2 separate regions of the Homo sapiens genome follow, and region 2 is linked to region 1. The links come from fine-mapping of genetic effects on gene expression. Tissue or cell type: esophagus mucosa. Region 1 holds a variant in brackets; the other region holds the start of a gene. All regions are shown on one strand. Distances are from middle to middle.

Region 1 (8,340 bases):
AAGTGGATAATAAATAATTAAGGTTAGACTTGTCATAGCTCATATGTATCACAAGGAAATATTTATGGAGTTTTGAGCCTGTGGGTCACTTTTCCTATAACAAAACCTGGGTGTGGGAAACCAAATTTTTAAAAGTTATATTATTTACATATTTTTATTTCAATTTGAAGAAAAATTTGTCTAATTTTTAGAATGTTTTCCTGCAAATATAACAGACTTCATAATGCACATTTATGAAGGATTCTGAAACAATAGCAAGGAAGGAGAAAGAGCTGCATGGATTAATCCTGAGCTGCTGCAGCACACTGACTGCATGTCAGTGGCACTTTAAGATTGCAACATTTTGTTTGGTGACCTTCACACCAGTTGACTGTATGCACCTTAATCTCTCTCTCAAAAAAAAGCTGAGCCTACTATAGATTGGCATCTTTTTCTTTTTAACCCCAGTTTTTCATTTACCTACACTGGTTTACCTACACCTGGTTTAATTTGTACAGCAGAATGAAGTTCTTTATTACAAAGCTCAGAAACTCGTCTTTGAGTTTTTAGGAACAGTAAGTACAAAGGTTGTCATGAATTGAGACTGAAAGACCTCATAGATAAATTGGGTAGTACATTTTTAAAGTAAAGAATAAATAACACTTCAGAAAAATGTAGAATACGTTCATAAATGCACAAATGGAGATAAAATGTCACTTTTTGTAATGAGGTTTCTTTCAGACTTTGACACTCGTAAGTAAATGTTCAGAGGAAATAAACGTCAGGGCATATCAGCTTTTGTGAGGGTTGCCAATGTGTAAATGTGAGGTCTACTGTAAATCGTGCTGTCCATTTACCTGCCTCTCTGCAGGAATTTCTTTTTGAGTGTGTAGTCCTTATTTCCCAAGAATAAATACAAAGACTTTTCAGACTATGAATACATATCACATGGTCTCTAAGGTACAGTTGTACATTATACCTGTGGAAGTTTTCTTTCTTAAATAATTAAACGAGATTTTTAATTGTATAAAATAAGAATCTTAAATATTAAGTTATGATGCTTTCTTTAAGAGTGTCTAGTTTCCTTCCTTCTCTCTCCCTTCTTCCCTCTGTTTACTTCCCGGCTAACTCCCCTCCTTTCTTCCTTCTCCCCTTCCTCCTTCTTCCCTCCTTTCCTTCCTTCCTCATTAATTCTTAAAATGTTCATTTGAATGCTTAGATGCTAGATTGTCTCATTTCTGCCTCTATGATTATTGCTTATAAATCAAAGCAGTAAGTCCCACTAAAAACTTAAGAGCCAAGTTAGTATCTTCTTTTTTAGCGTCCTATTATTCACTCAAACTTAATCTTCTTTTTTTCCCATTATTACAAGTTATTACTAAAACTAGCACAGAAAAGCTTTTCACTATATCGCCTCCTTTGAATTAAGATAGTCTCACATATATAGTATTTAGGGAAAAGATAAGGCTAATATTCTTTGGACCGGCTTCCCTATTTTGAAAAAATCTTCCCTCATATCCCTAAACCATACAGACAAGCATTATGCAGAAAACCATTAACATGACTTTCAGTTTTCAAGAGAGAAAGTCAAAAATTCCACAGAAAATTAGAGCTGTTGGACTAAATGTTGGTCTATTAATAAGCAGGAAGAACAATTTAGCTGTTTTCCCTGCTGAGTTAATATATAGTACTGCTGTCTTTCCTGCAGCGGTATTCTCCAGCTGGGTTACTTGGTTCTGGGAATTTCCTCTCAAAATGCCCATTTCTGTCAACCAGCCATCAGACCTGCCTGAGGATAGTTGATATGACAGTGGTGTGACATATTGAATATTAATATGAAAGTGACCTTCCCTGCTGTCAGAAATGGGTCATATATATGTGAAATCCATGAAAATAGATGAGAACAGATTTAAAATAAGGAACACTCCTTATATTGGTATACAGTGTTCACCATGCTTGTACTGAAATATGGCTGTAAGTAGCTTGCCTTCAAGAATTTTTAATAATCATTTCTGAAGAACTGATTTTCCCTTTCATACTTTGTCTTTCATTGGCCAACTTTAAATCACCCTCTAACTAGCCACATGGCTGCCCATCACTCCCTCTGTCAAATTCAGAATTCTGCCTTTGCCTTCAAACTCAAGCCATTCCTGCTTTGACTTCCTTCTGTCTTACATCTGTCCTTGACCTTATTTTGGCTGTTTTGTTTGCCATTCTCTAAATTCGCATCTTTCTGGCCTGCTTTTGCATGGGCTTCTCTGTCATTTATTTTTAACTAGTGGCATAGAGTCCTTCCCTGTCATCTGCTGGCTTGTGTTCTTACTCTCCAAAGCCAGTGGCAGGGGTTTTCTTTCTCAGAAAAGGCATTTCTCTGTTTAAATATTAGTTTTCATACCCAGAACTTGCTGACTCTTGAACATTTAATGTACATTTAGCCAAACAACCTGAATCTGTTATAAATGTGCAAAGACCAAGTTTTATATTTTTATATGTTTTGTAATAACCTCATGACAGGTACTTAATGGGTTGTGTTTATGTTCAGAGAATGAACTTTTAGGTTGTCAAGATGGGAGGTATACAAGTCTTTTTAATAAAGACCCCTAGCTAAAGGCTGCTTCTCTAGCCGATGGAACAAACCAGGACAAGGCCTGCTTATCTGTGTATTGTAGCTTTCCTAATTGATAGCAAGTGCCTCTGAAAAAATGTTTACATAGTTATCTAAAGTAATCATTAATTACCAACATTGTACATTTCATTCTGGTTAACCTCTTTTGGTATCATTACTTTTCTCAGAGTTGAGCAGTAATCATTTTTACAATGGAGACTTTTAAAAGATTTTTTAAAAATAGCATTTTGATCCCTGAATTGCGTTTCTATGTGATTATGCTGATTTTTTCATATATGCGAGTCTTTTTTAAAGTTAAGTTATACTTACATCCTTAATGATAAATCGCCAGTGAAAACCAAGAGAACTCAAGAGAGTCTGACCATTTCTGTACTTGGAATGTGTCAGGGGTCAGTGCTCTGCAAATGGCACATGTGGAAAGAAGGATTCATAATTCAGTTGTCACCCAACTGTATCATAAGAGTTTGAACTATAAAGAAATAAGTAGTTGCTTCTTGCTGACCAACAAGATCGCTACAGGTTTCAAAGAAAGAAAGAATTCGTCATCAAGGGCAGGAAGGTACTTCATAAATAATTACCAAATGAAGTGGTCGTGATGACTAGCGCTCTCTTTCCTTGAAACCTGTAGCAATCTTGGTGGTCAGCAAGAGGCAACTACTTTTCTCTTTATAGTTCAAACTCCTCCGATACCATTTGGGTGATCACTAAATTATGAAACCTTCATTCCCCATCTCCTCCCATTTGCAGAGCACTGACCCCTGACACATTTTATGGACCAAAATGGTCAGGCTTTCTCGAGTTCTCTTGGCTTTCATTGGGGATTTATTATCTAATGTCTACTCACCCCTTCCCCTCCAGGACTCAGATCATAGAGTTTTGCTATATAGTACTTTAAATTTCCATTAAGCTTGAAATCATTCATTTCAAAGAAGAGGGTCATGGTGCCCCTGATTATATACAGGATAAATAGAAATAAAGATATCCCTGTGTCATCATGAAAATGAACAGCTGGCAATTGAACTTATTAATATATTAACAGGACACGATGAAACAAAGGTATTCCCTCTGAGATCAAACCCTCCCATTACTGCAAAGAAGGGTGTAGCATGAGAAAGTTCTCTCCTAGGTTCACTGCAGGTTCACTTAGACCTGTTTGACTT[G/T]TTGAGATTATTTTAAGCTCAGGAGTTAATTTTTTTAAATGGCTAAGCCTAGTTCATCATTACAGAGTACAAAATATTCAATCATACTTAAGGGTTGTTGGGGTTTTCTCATGGTAATGCATTATAATTGATAACATTCATTAATTGCTTCGAATTTCTTCCTAATTAAATTTTAAAAATAAATGCATAACTGCTCTTTGAAATTTGATTGATTTGACTTAAAAACTAATTGGAAAGGGGAATCTGTGCCTCCTAATTTTATAATTAAAATATATGTTGCTAAATAGTTTTCATCTACTTCTATTTTTTAATTCCTTCATTTCTTATAAAAATGGAGGCTATATTTGCATAACTGTGTCCCCGGTAATGATGGGAGACTGGGAAGTTGCAAAAAATACTTTGCAAGGACAACAACTATCTTGACTCTTCTGCCTATTTCCTTGTAAAGATCTCTGTGATTATTTGGGCCCACCCAAATATTGCAGGATAAGCTCCCTGTCTCAAGATCCTTACCTCAATCACATGTGTAAGTATTGCTATAGGAAGTAACTTATTCACAAGTTTCAGGATAAAGCTATGGACATCTCTGAGGACCATGATTCAGCCGCCCACTCTCACATTATATTTCCCAGAACCATAGAGAGCACCCCACAAAGATTTGCTGAATATTGTTGAGTGATCAAATGATATGGTTTCAATAAAGCTCCATGAATTATACTTGTGAAGAACAAATAGACTTCTGATGTCACTGTCACAGTAGGCATTGCAGGAATTTTCAAAAGTATATTTCTTTCTTTCTTTTTTTTTTTTTTTTGAGAAAGATCTTTCCAATGTAGATAGTGTATGGAATGACAATTTAGCAGCAGCAGAATGCACTTTTGCAGAAACACACAAACACACATAACTCCTTTGACAATAACCCAGCATACTGACCTCTCTCCAAACCTGCTTTCTTTTTTGTTGTGGCCAGACTTTGAGTGGAAGGAAAGGAGATTGGCAGAGGTGAGCAGGAAGAGGCCAGAGCTGAAGGAGGAGAGAAGAAATTAGCCAGGTTTGATAGAGAGATGGCTTCTGGGACAATTCTTTTCAGAGGCCAAGGTGGCTGATGAGCCACTTGCTCCACTCATTTCCCTGTGAGATCATGGAGTAAAATTAGAGGAACATAAAAGGCGAAGGCTTCCTTACATCCTTAGAAGGTCATGACCAGTGTGTCCAGCTTCTGATTTCTCATGACAGTATTGTTTTTATTCTTTAATAAATTTTATTCTGATATTCAGTGTATAAAATAAAAATTGCCTACCTTAGTATTCAGAGATAGCTGCTGTAACATTTTGGCATATTTTCTTCCAGTTTTTTTCTCTGCATATATGGTTACATCACAGAATCACAATTATGGTCTGGACAAAGTTTTATATCTTACTTATGTTCACTTGACTAGGAAAATTTTCTCATGACATTAAATATTTTTCAAAACATGATTATTCAATGACTGTATAATATTGCACTTTTGGATGTACGTCTATGGTTGAATGTTTATGCTTCTGCCTAGAATGAATGATACGGCCTTGAATAGTTTTGCATTACATCTTTTTTCACCTTCTTAATTGTTTCTATTGGACAGTTCCTAGGAGAGGCAATCAAAGGGCATGGACGTTTTTATGATTCTTCATCGATGTGGCCAAAGATATTAATTTACACACCTACTCTCTGTGTCGTGACTATTTCTCCTCACATTCAACAGCATTAAGCATTAGTTTTTTAAAAAAAATTTTAAAAATTTTGAATGCTTATTGGATAATTATAAGGATTTTTGGTAACTTGTTGATCTGTGTTCTTTGCCCATTTATCCATTGAGATGTTAATATTTTGCTTATGAACTACCTTTGCGTGTTATGTCTCTGGAAATTATTTTTCCAGTTTGGTGTTTGCCTTTTGAGTATTCTGCTCTCTGATATATAAATGTGTTTCACCTTTGCTACTCCAGTCAAATCTACTATTACTCTCTGACACATTTCACTACCTTTATGTTTAGAAATTATTTTGCTAGGCTCAATAGCTGATAAATAACCACCTGTATTTTACATAATCCTTTATTATTTTATTTTAAAATTTAACATAACATTTATCTGTCTTTATTTTAACATATAGTATGAGATAGCAACATACATTTTAAATTATTCAAATAGTTAATTCAATGCCATTTATTAAATAAGTGCTCTTTTCTTCACTGACTTTTTGATTAAATCTATCTTTTAATTGGTATATACATTTCTGTATCTGGGCTCTCTATTTCTGTAACCATCTATTAATTATTGTAGCAGAACCATATTATAGTTTATATATCCCATTATAATTTGTATTATAGCCTGTTTCTGACATGGTGGCCCCTAACTCTTTCATTTTTCTGTATTTTAAATTTATTTTAGCAGTTATTGTCTCAGCATTCTTTAAGGTGAGTATTGGAATTAATTTTCAAATTTAAAAAATCTTGGACCGGGCACGGTGCCTCATGCCTGTAATCCCAGCACTTTGGGACGCTGAGGAAGGTGGATCACTTGAGGTCAGGAGTTCAAGCCGGCCTGACCAACATGGTGAAACCCCATCTCCACTAAAAATACAAAATTAGCCAGGCATGGTGGCACACGCCTGTATCCAGCTACTTGAGAGGCTCGAACCCGGAAGGCACAAGGTTGCAGTGAGCCGAGATCATGCCATTGCACTCTGGCCTGGGCAACAAGAGCGAAACTCCATCTCAAAAAACAAAACAAAACTTGTTGTACTTTGTATAGAATTATGTGCAAATTATGAATTATTTTGGAAAAGTTTGCATCTTCACAATTTTCAATAATTTCAAAATATCTCTTTTTCAAGTCTTATGTGATATGACAAAAAAATCATTTATTTGTAGAGGTCCTGCATTCTTTTTAAGGTTATTCCTAGGTATTAGATACTTTTTATTTAATTATTTTTGAGATTATTTAAGATACTGTTTTCTAATTGGTGGTTACTGTTATATGAAAGCTATTGCTTTTAGTATTTTGTCTTTTGATTCTGTTTGTTAATGATAATTATTTTTCACTTAGTTCTCCTGAGTTTTATTTATAAACAATTATATTATAATCAAAAAATGATTCTATCATCTTTCCAAATAATGTATCTCTTCTTTGTTGATTATGTCCTATAACATTAGCCAGAATTTCCACAGCAAAGTTCAAAATACTCACTGGCATTCTACTCTTATCTTGTTTCTGATTTTAACAGCTATTTATTTGATGATAGATTTTTTTCTAACCATGTTAAAGAAATTTTTTTGCATTCCTAATATGCTGAGAATTTTTAAAATTAAAAAAATGGGTTTTGGAATACTATAAAATGCCTTTTGGATGATTTTGGTAAATTATCATCCATGAGGAGAATATAATATGGAAGCCAGAGTATGGGATTTATGGCCAGACAGAGCTGGAGTCAAATTATACCTCCTCCTCTTAGAATTGTGTAACATTAAGCAATTTATTTATTCCCTTCGAATTTCAGTCTCTTACTCTGTAATATGAAGATAATCATGTAAATATCTTGTGAGGATATTATGAGTATCCAGTAAGAATTATTTATAATGTGTTTAACACCAGACTTGATATGGAGTATCATAGTTTCTTTTGAATTATTGCATAAGTTTTGCCTTTGATCTATTAAAATGGTGCACTATAATTACAGATTTCCTAATATTTAATCATCTTTTTATTCTTGGACCAAAGCCTACTTGGCCCTGATGAAATGTTTTCTTAACTTACTGCTGTATTCCATATTTGTTTGAGATTATTGTATCAATTTTCCTAATGATTTGGTCTTTAGTTGAATTTTTATGCTATCTTATTAGTTTTGATATCAAAATTATGTAAACTTTATGTAATGATTAGAAAGATTTTATCATTTTCTGTGTTCTGCACCTATGGAAATTATATTTTCATGGGCAATTTTTTTTTCTCTGAAATTCTCTGTATCGGGATTATTTTTTGAACCAGATAATACTTTTATAACTTTTAAAGATTTTTGCTGTTGTTGTTTCTATTTGTTGTTGTCAGATTGTTTTCTCTAATCAATTCATCTATTCAGTGTTTCTACTTCTATTTGTGGCAATTTTGGTAATTCATATTATACCTAAAAATTGTCCTTCTGTCAGTATCGTTTGTTTGTTTGAGATGGAATCTCACTCTGTTGCCAGGCTGGAGTGCTGGTGTGATCTCGGCTCATTGCAATCTCTGCCTCCCAGGTTCAAGCAATTCTCCTGCCTCAGCCTCCCAAATAGCTGGGGTTACAGGCACATGACACCACACCCAGCTAATTTTTGTATTTTTAGTACAGACGGAGTTTCACCATTGTTGGCCAGGATGGTCTCGATCTCCTGACCTAGTGATCCACCCGCCTCGGCCTCCCAGAATGCTGGGATTATAGACGTGAGCCACCGTGCCCAGCACCTTACTTCTGTGACATGATCTTGTAGTTATTATTCCTTAGTTTTCTGTTTTTGTTTTTGTTTTTTTTTTTTTTTTGAGACGGAGTTTCACTCTTGTTGCC
Region 2 (8,340 bases), 48 kb before region 1:
ATGATGAGCTGGTTAAGAGTATACCCTCTGTCACCCAGTACCCAGGCCTGAGCTTGAGCAGATTATTTGATCTTCCTAATTTTTAACATCTGGAAAATGAAGTACATAATAATACTGTTTCACAGGGTCCTCTGGCAAACTTTAAAAGATGTATGAAATATTTAGGACAGTACGTAAAACATAATACATGTCTAATACATGTTAGCTATGTTATGTACTCCTTGCTATAACCAGCCATGCCAGCATGTCTACTGCATCTCCAACATGCCCTATGCTTCTACCACAATAAAGGATCAAGTTTTTTCCCCATGGCCAGCTTCATGGGCATGTGATCTGGACAGCTGCATACAACCCATGCTGGGAAGGGCTTGGTGCTTGAGGCCTGGCACTTCATTTAATGCTCTGTTGTCACCGTAATGAAATTCCTAATAATTTTATCTTTGAACTTTTGTTTTGTAAATGAAGGCTGATGGGACAATGGAGCATGTGCATGAACAGAGGAAATACAGATAACATGCATAGCTGCTGCCATTCTTTACTTGTTCCACTCACACATAGCATTCTTGTTGCCCCATAAGCACAGAATCCCTGTGGGCACACAATGTGTGGGAGTTCTGCAAAACTCAAATTGAGTATGAGGTAAGCATGTCACATCAATGACTAAGTGAGGACACTGACAACCCCAAAATGGGGTTTGCCACGCTTTCCATTCCAACCAAAGCCTGATTTGAATGCAAAAAGAAGGTAACAACCAAGGAAACTTTCTCTGTCTTTTCTTATGTTAATACTTCTCTGTAACCACTTAGTTTGAAAATGATGACATAGAAGGAAAGAGAAAGATAAGGCAACCTATAGTTCCTTTTCCTTTCTGGTCTCCTTTATTCAAAAGTAAGCCAAAGGCAGAGTGTTGGTAAAAACGGGCATATATCAAGATATGAAATAAAAAAGTTAGTTTTGTGCTGTGAATTAGAGTGTACTTGAATTAGATAATTTTGACCCTGTCATCTTCCCCAAGAAGCTGTCTTTCCTGAAGGGTTGGAGTTCTTACCCAGCTGCTATGGACCAGAATCACTGGAGCCCTCATAGAAAAAATAAGTTCCAAGAACTAACAATGAACAGACAGAAGCAGAATCTCCAGGGCTAGGTCAGGTGGCTGCACAGCCAGCTTGAGAAGTAGCTGAATAAGCAAAACAATACCAGGGGTTCCAGTCCCAATACTCCCTGGCAAAATGTGGTCCATCTTTGATGGATTGGTTCAAGTGCCACCATTTTCCATGAAATCTTCCCTGATTTTTCCCTCCCCTCACGCCCACGTCTCTAACTCCCTGACCCCAAATCCTTCACTATATATTAATTATCTTTGACATCTAGGACATTCTAACTTGAACTTTGCTTCTCTGAAAAGACTCTGGTAACACTGAGGGCATAGCAGGGCAGGGACTAGGTTTAGGCAAGTGAGGCACTCATCCCTGGTGTGAAATTTAAGGGGATGCCAAAAAAGAAAAAAAAAAAAGCCTCAGTAAATCAGGAGAAATATTTTAATGCACTATTTTAAAAATCAAAATTAATGCAACAATTATTCATGATGAACAATACATCAAAATTTTAAATAAAGGCAGGCTCAGACCCTGCACTTGTATCACTGGCCTCACTCACTTCTGCCCAATCCGAGCCCTATGAGGTTCTGTTTCATTCATTTTCTTACACCAGTAGTTGCTAAATAAATAAATATATGAATGAATTGCTTTCTTGAACTGAGTCATCAGCTTAAAGGTATAGATCCTGGTAATGAGGATGTCTATGGTGAAATATGGGAATGGGTCCTGGAAACAGCCTTGGTGTGCCCTCTCAAGTCAGCTGGAACACATGACCACATAATCTAAAGTTTGAATAAATGTTCTTCCTTCAATCAAGTCATCATGACATTCTCCTCCATTGTCCTACCTTGTGTAAAACCAGAAAAATAAATGACATGATCTCTTGGTAACCCTTCTTTACCATCATCATGCAGCCTGTAGGACAGCCCTCAGAGGTCCTGTTCAAAATGGAACCCTAGTAGTTCACGTTATCATTAACATTGCAGTAAAACTGCCCTCCCCCATTGTTGTAGAACATTGTTACTACCACAGTCTCATGGATTGTTTGAATAATGCCACGCCCTTTATTTATTTCATGCTTTAATTGGCTCATTTCTGAATTTTCTGGGCAAAATGAGATCAGAAAGACAAAGCCCTTGAACAAAGAGAAGCAACAGTTTTTGTTACATTTCATTTTGTCCTCTGTATGTCTCCTTCTTAAATAATTTAGCTCCAAGTTATACTCAGGAAGAGAAAAAAATTAAAAGTTCCAGTAGGCCGAGAAGCCCATGATCCACCGTGTTGAAGGAAGATTTGCTTCACCTCACCACCCCCCAACCCCCTCCCGCCCCCCCGCGGTAATACTAAGCTGTTCACACGCTGTGAAGAAGACCCGAAGACTAGGTTGTCAACTGTTGGGGCCTACCTGCGCCAGACTTCTTCCTCAGTGGCCAGCTTTCTCACCCCCCGTTAGCCACCAGGGGGCCGCCTGCTTGGAACAAGTGGTGTAGACGCCACAGCTTTTCTCCAAACCAACCAAAACATTCCGGGGCAGCTTTGGAGCAAAGCCCAGGAACTTCCCTGCAAAGGAGAACAGCTCTCCAACTACAGAAGCCTGCAAGTCCTATGGTGCAGACTTATTAAGAGTAGAGAAGAAAGCACGGACTTCTCACCGAGGACCAAAGGGAAATGGGGTCTCTGGGGCCTGCAACTTTCTTAAAAGTGCATCAGTGAAACCCTGCTTATCCAGCGGGGTGGTTGTTAATGCTGTCAGCAGGGGTGGGGGGCCTCTCACCCCTTTCCCTGGGACGCTCAGAAGAAGCGAGAATAAAACATACATGTCACTGGCTGGAAATCTAGAGAACCTTCCAATAAATAACCTATACATTGTCAGGCAGCTGAGGATCCATATCGTCATAACTCTATTATACTGCGTGTTACACGAATAGATGTGAATATTAAATTATGATGTCGGAATTATTTTAATACTGTCTATAAGAAATTAATTGTACTCTGTTGTCAAAGTAGTTTTGTTGCAACTATAGTTCCTTATTGACTACCTTTTAGCTGAGTGAGGACTCGGTATTTCCCAAGTATCCTTCTAGCTCAGAAAGCAAGTCTCTTCCTGGTCTCCAGGACTTAAGGTCGGGGGCATTTGAGAGACCTATATTTGCCCGGGAAAGATCTCTTGAAGAGTATACATTATTTTTGTCTTCCTGGTTTTATCTATACATTTCCAGGGCAAAGACAAATTAATAGGGCGGCCGTTCTGGGACCTGAGGAGTGTCTCAGCCCTGTACGCGCCTCTCCCACGATATGCATAATGGCGGTGGGGGCGGGGGTGTCCTCCTTAAGGGCAACCCAGGCACGTCCCAAACTTCCATTCGTGGGGTGGCCGTGGTGGTTAAGAGAGCTGCCAGATGGTCGGACCAGCGGAGGCCCCAAGAAGAGCCAGAGCGCCCTGTATTCCCGACACGCGCCACAAGTGGTTTAGGAGCGGAGGGAGGAGCGCTGCGGCACGGGTCGGGCCGGTCGGGCCGGGCAAAGAAGGCCGAGACGTGCTCCTGGAAGACTCGCCCTCCGGTCCCGGTGTCACTCGTTCCCCATTCTTTCCTCTTCTCCAACTAGAGTAATGACGCCCAAACCCGCACCTATGCGCGCAGGCAATCGGGTGGGTGGACGCGCGGCCACCAAACCCACAGCACCGTCACCAACCCTGGGAGGGCACGGCCGGGATTAGGAGGAGGGGGAGCGCCCACACCTGGGGAGGCAGGTGCGGAGGCGGCCGGCCCGGGGACCTCGAGTGCGTAGGACTCGGGGTCGGGGTCGGGGTCGGCAAGCCGGGCGCTGTGAGCGCGTCGGAGCGCTGGCCCGGAGCCTGGCAGGGGGCGTCTGTACCGGCTGGGCAGCCCGGGGCGGTGGCGATGGCTGGCGGCGGCGGCGGGGTGTGCGCCAGGAGGCCATTTCCTCGCTGCGCCCCTGGCGGAGCCGGGTTTGCCTGCTCTTGGCCGCCGCCGCCACCGCCGCGCAAGTCGGACAGCCGTGAGGGCTGGAGGGGAAACCAGGTCACCGGTTCGCAGACGCGGCGCGGAGCAGGCGCCCCGGGCCCGGAGTAAGACAGCGCCCGGGAAGCGGGCCGGGGCGGGCCGGGCACGCGGGGGACCCGGAGAGGCGGGGACTCTGGTGCCCCAGCCGCAGTAGCTTCCTACGCCTATAAAAGTGGAGAGACCGGGGAGGTGCGGCGCGGCCCTGGCTGCGGCCGCCTCTCTTCGCCCAAGGAGTTGACATTTTGCAGGACTCGCGCGACGCCCAGTCGCCGGCGCTCCCCGGGACCCCGCCGCCGGGAGGAGGGGGCGGAGGAGGGTGGAGACTGCGGGGCTTGGCCAAGGAAGGCGCACATCCTCGGGCGGGCGGCCGTGACGCGGCGGGGATTAACTTTGCATGAATAATGTGAGTGCGCTTGGAAAAGAGACCTCCTGCTCCGCGGGCTCGGGGCAAGAGCCCGCAGGCTACCTTCCCCGGGCAGGGGCGCTCAACCCAACCGGCTCCAGGGCACTGGTAATTTGGCTAGAGGACCGCGCGGAGGCAGCGGGGTGAGAGGAGGAGGGGGCGACAGTTCCAACTGTCCACAGGGTGGGCGGGATGGTGACGGAGCGTCGCAAGAACCCGGAGGGGTGCGGGCGGCTAAGCCGAGCGCGCGCGGGCGGGCAGGCGGGTGAGCGTGGGTGGTGGGGGTGTCATCAGCCTGATTACCTGCCTCCGCGGGGCTTCTGCGCCCCGGATCTGGGAGGAGGTGCCCTCTCGTGTTCGGGCACCGCGCGGCGGCAGGCTGGGAGCTACGGAGTGGACAGTGGTGGAACAGGGTGGCCGGGCTCTGTTCCAATCGCAGCGGCTCTGTTCCTCAAACCCCAAGCCCAGCTGTTGACATGTTCCTTGTGAAATGGAGTTTGGCATCCTCAGCGCCGAACCCAGTGGAAGTTTCCATGATGAGGAAGTTGTGTGACATGGGGGTTCGGAAAAGGTTGGCAGGCCAGGGGGGAGGGTTAAAGGGACTGTGGGTCTCCCATCCCCCCTTTTTCGCCTGCCCCGGAACTCCCGGGCTTGGAAAGGAGAATTATCCTGGATGTTGGCGTGCGCCGTGGCCGGTGCCTGGCGACTGGGCTTCTCTCCGCCTCCTGGGGGCTTGGCGGGGATTTCGCTAGCCTCCTGGGTCGCGCTCCTTCGCTTTGCTTCTCTTGGCGCAGCATCTTCCTCTGGGTCTCCTCGAGTTGGTTGTGATACCAATTGTGCCAACTGTGTGACCTCCACCCCCTCGGAGAAGGACTCATTTGGGGGAATTTTCATTCTTAGTGGATTTTGCCCTTCTTAGCGGCAGTTGTCACTTTGGGGGAGGATTTCCCAATGACCATTGTGGGATTATTATTAGTGTTAATTCTTAAGCCTTCTTATTTATTTTAAGGAGGGGGAGGGAGAAAATGAGATGAATTTTTTTTAAATGTACAAGTTTCCCCAAATGGAAAATTTTAAAAGAAGGATCTAGAAACATAACAATTCATAAAGTGAGTCAAAGAAAGGAAAGAGTTTGCATGAACAGCCAAGTTCAGATTCTCCATTCTCCTTTGTCCACATAAATTTAGAATTTTTGAAGATTCAAACACTGTGTAATCAGTAAATATATTTGAAATACCTTCTTCCTCAGCACATTATTGGTCTTGGGTACTAGTGAGATTCAGTTTTAAAGACCTGTGTGGAAGTTCAAGAAATTAAGCATTCCTTGCACAGTGTATTAATATCAAGCACAGCAGTTTATATAATGATAAATGTATTAGGTAATGTAGACCTGTTGGGCAATCTTCACATTATTTGGCTTTAGTTTAGTATGCTTATTTAAATTGTAAGAATGTATAGCATGCAATGCACTGCAAAGAAATAAAAATTGCATTTTAACGTGTTCATGATTCATTCTGAATATTCAGTGACTGACCTGCTCCCCAATTCACTTCTGCTTAATTCTTTCTAATTCCGAAATCAGTCAGAGGCTAGGAAACAATGAAAAACGTGTTTCAGTGCAAAGTATTTTAAGCAGTTGATGTTTTTAGGATGTTTTCATGCCAGGTGGCTAAGTGTTTTAATTGAGTCAAACAGAAATCCAGTACCAAGTGATTTGTTTGGAGTGTTTTATACAAAGACATTGGTGAACGATCATTTATAATTTGAGCATGTTAAAGAAATACTAACAGAATCTATTTTTACCTGATCTCAGAGGTTTATTATATATTGGAAGTGAGACCATCTGCTAGTAAATACAGTTTGGCTTTATTTTATAGCCAGTGAAAAATAAATAATACTGAGTATAGCTACAGAACTGGTTTTTTAAAGTGAAATAATTCCTGTTGGCATTACAATGCAAAGGTATACTTTTATTGACATTGGAATATTGTTACATAAAGCAACTGACATTATGTAGAGGAATGAATATTCCATGTATCTCCTTTCAGTTTCTTTGTAGTAAATTCTGCCATAATTAGAGATGAATTAAGACAACTTTTTAATCCATTATCTTTGGGAAAGGTGATTTCTTAAAATCGCCTTAAAAGCAGAGAAAGCTGTGGATTCCTTTCCTCTCCTGGGGTTTTTGCAGTTGTTTAAAGCATGAGTTGTGTGGAGCCACAAATGGTATTGCATGTTTCTTTTTTTAGTAAGCCCATCTTTTTGATGGAAATCAGAGTAAAGGTGATTGGTTTCTTCGCCCTGGTCTTCTCATTCTAGTGTAAGATTACGTGTCACCTTCTTAGAAAGCCCTTCCCTGACCACTTGAGCAAAGGCGGTCCCTCATTCCTTTTCAGACCCATCACACTGGTTTTTCTCTTTGTTTGTTTGTTTTGTTCTTCTTTTTCTTTCCTTTATTGTATTTGCAATCTGAATTGTTCATTTCAATTGATGCTTGTTGATCGCCTGTATCCTTGCCTAGAATATCGAATCCATGAGCACAGGACTCTTGACTGCCTCACTCACTCTTATTTTCCAGCATCTAGAACAATACTTGGCACACAGTAGGTGCTGGATAACTCTTTGGTGAATAAATTAATGATTGTGTCCAAATATTATGTTCTCAAAAATACCTGACTACACATCCTAAGTGGGTGCCAGTTGGGCATGCCAAGATCTATTCTGTGTGTGCATGTGTATGTGTGTGTTGCACACATTCCATGCTTATATGGTTCACTCTTTATTTTTCTCTCTCTCTCTTTCTTTTCGAAATAAAAGCTGGTCTTCCATTCTGTGTAGTGACAATGCAAAGAGCTATTTCTGCGAGTTCCTCCTAAGGGCATTTGCCTTGAATACATGGAAATCCTCAGCAGCAGAATTTTTCTGACATGTTACCTTGATCCCTGGAAGACATTGACCTTCAACTCCCTGAATTTCAGCAGAATCTTTATGAGTTCCAGAAGCATTGCCAGTGCTAAGAGTGAAATTCCAGGGACTAGACTTCACTGGGTGATGGCAGTGTCTTCTCACTCAGCAGGTCCTGGCAGTGCCTCTGGCAATGGCAGCCCTAAGTGGACCAACCAGTGCATGGTGGTACAATTTGGGCTGCAAAAGTGGTGGTTGGTGAGGGGGCAAAATGTAATGGTCAGGATCCAACACAAGATAGAAATAAATAGGTCTTGGTGATAGCTTTGAAAATAACCTGATGGTTATCATATGTTATTAGTTAAGTCAGCCAGCCTCTTTTTGCCCTCTTTTGCCGCTTCATAAAAGTATTCTGAACCAAATGATGGTGGGAAATATTGCATTATTTGAGTTTTCAAGTGACCAGAGCATAATATCAAAGGAGTCATCTTCAAATTAGTTATTCATGGAAACTCTTGCCAATTGAGAGCAAAAGGAAATTATAATTGAAGATTATGGTGATTTGTTTTTGTGTCTAGAGTATTGACTTTCATAAGTGTGCTGAGTAAATGCATAGTAAAAATTTCACAAAATCAGACTGTTAAAAATGGGAGGGGAAGAAAGATCAAAATCTTGTAGAGGAGGGAAGATAATTAAACTACAATCCTAAGTGCTTACTGCTTTAGAGTATTTAATTTGGCTCTGAGCTTCTTAGTAGTAGCCAAGTTAACAGAAAAAAAGGGGGTCTGGAGGTGGCATGCATTAAACTTGTAAGGATGACACATGTAGAGTGCCTGCCATGGTGCTTGCCAACTAGTATATACTCGTATGAAATATCAAATTATATCATGGATAATACTTGAACTTCAAT

What was found.
Region 2: it holds the start of THRB, and the variant in region 1 is fine-mapped to the expression of THRB in esophagus mucosa (GTEx, PIP above 0.99).

The regions. Positions count from the first base shown.
Region 1 is chr3:24,442,800-24,451,139 of GRCh38, reverse strand. The region is part of intron 1 of THRB (thyroid hormone receptor beta); the gene reads left to right. Among named protein-coding and RNA genes, the nearest start is that of THRB-AS1, 47 kb to the left of the region's middle. The variant G/T (reference allele first, on the strand shown) is at 3,766.
Region 2 is chr3:24,490,981-24,499,320 of GRCh38, reverse strand. THRB (thyroid hormone receptor beta) reads left to right here and starts at 4,471. Exons shown (of 11, transcript NM_001354712.2): 1 at 4,471-4,669. It overlaps THRB-AS1 (THRB antisense RNA 1), which reads right to left and starts at 5,234. Exons shown (of 2, transcript NR_046244.1): 1 at 4,830-5,234. RefSeq lists a silencer at 2,488-2,693.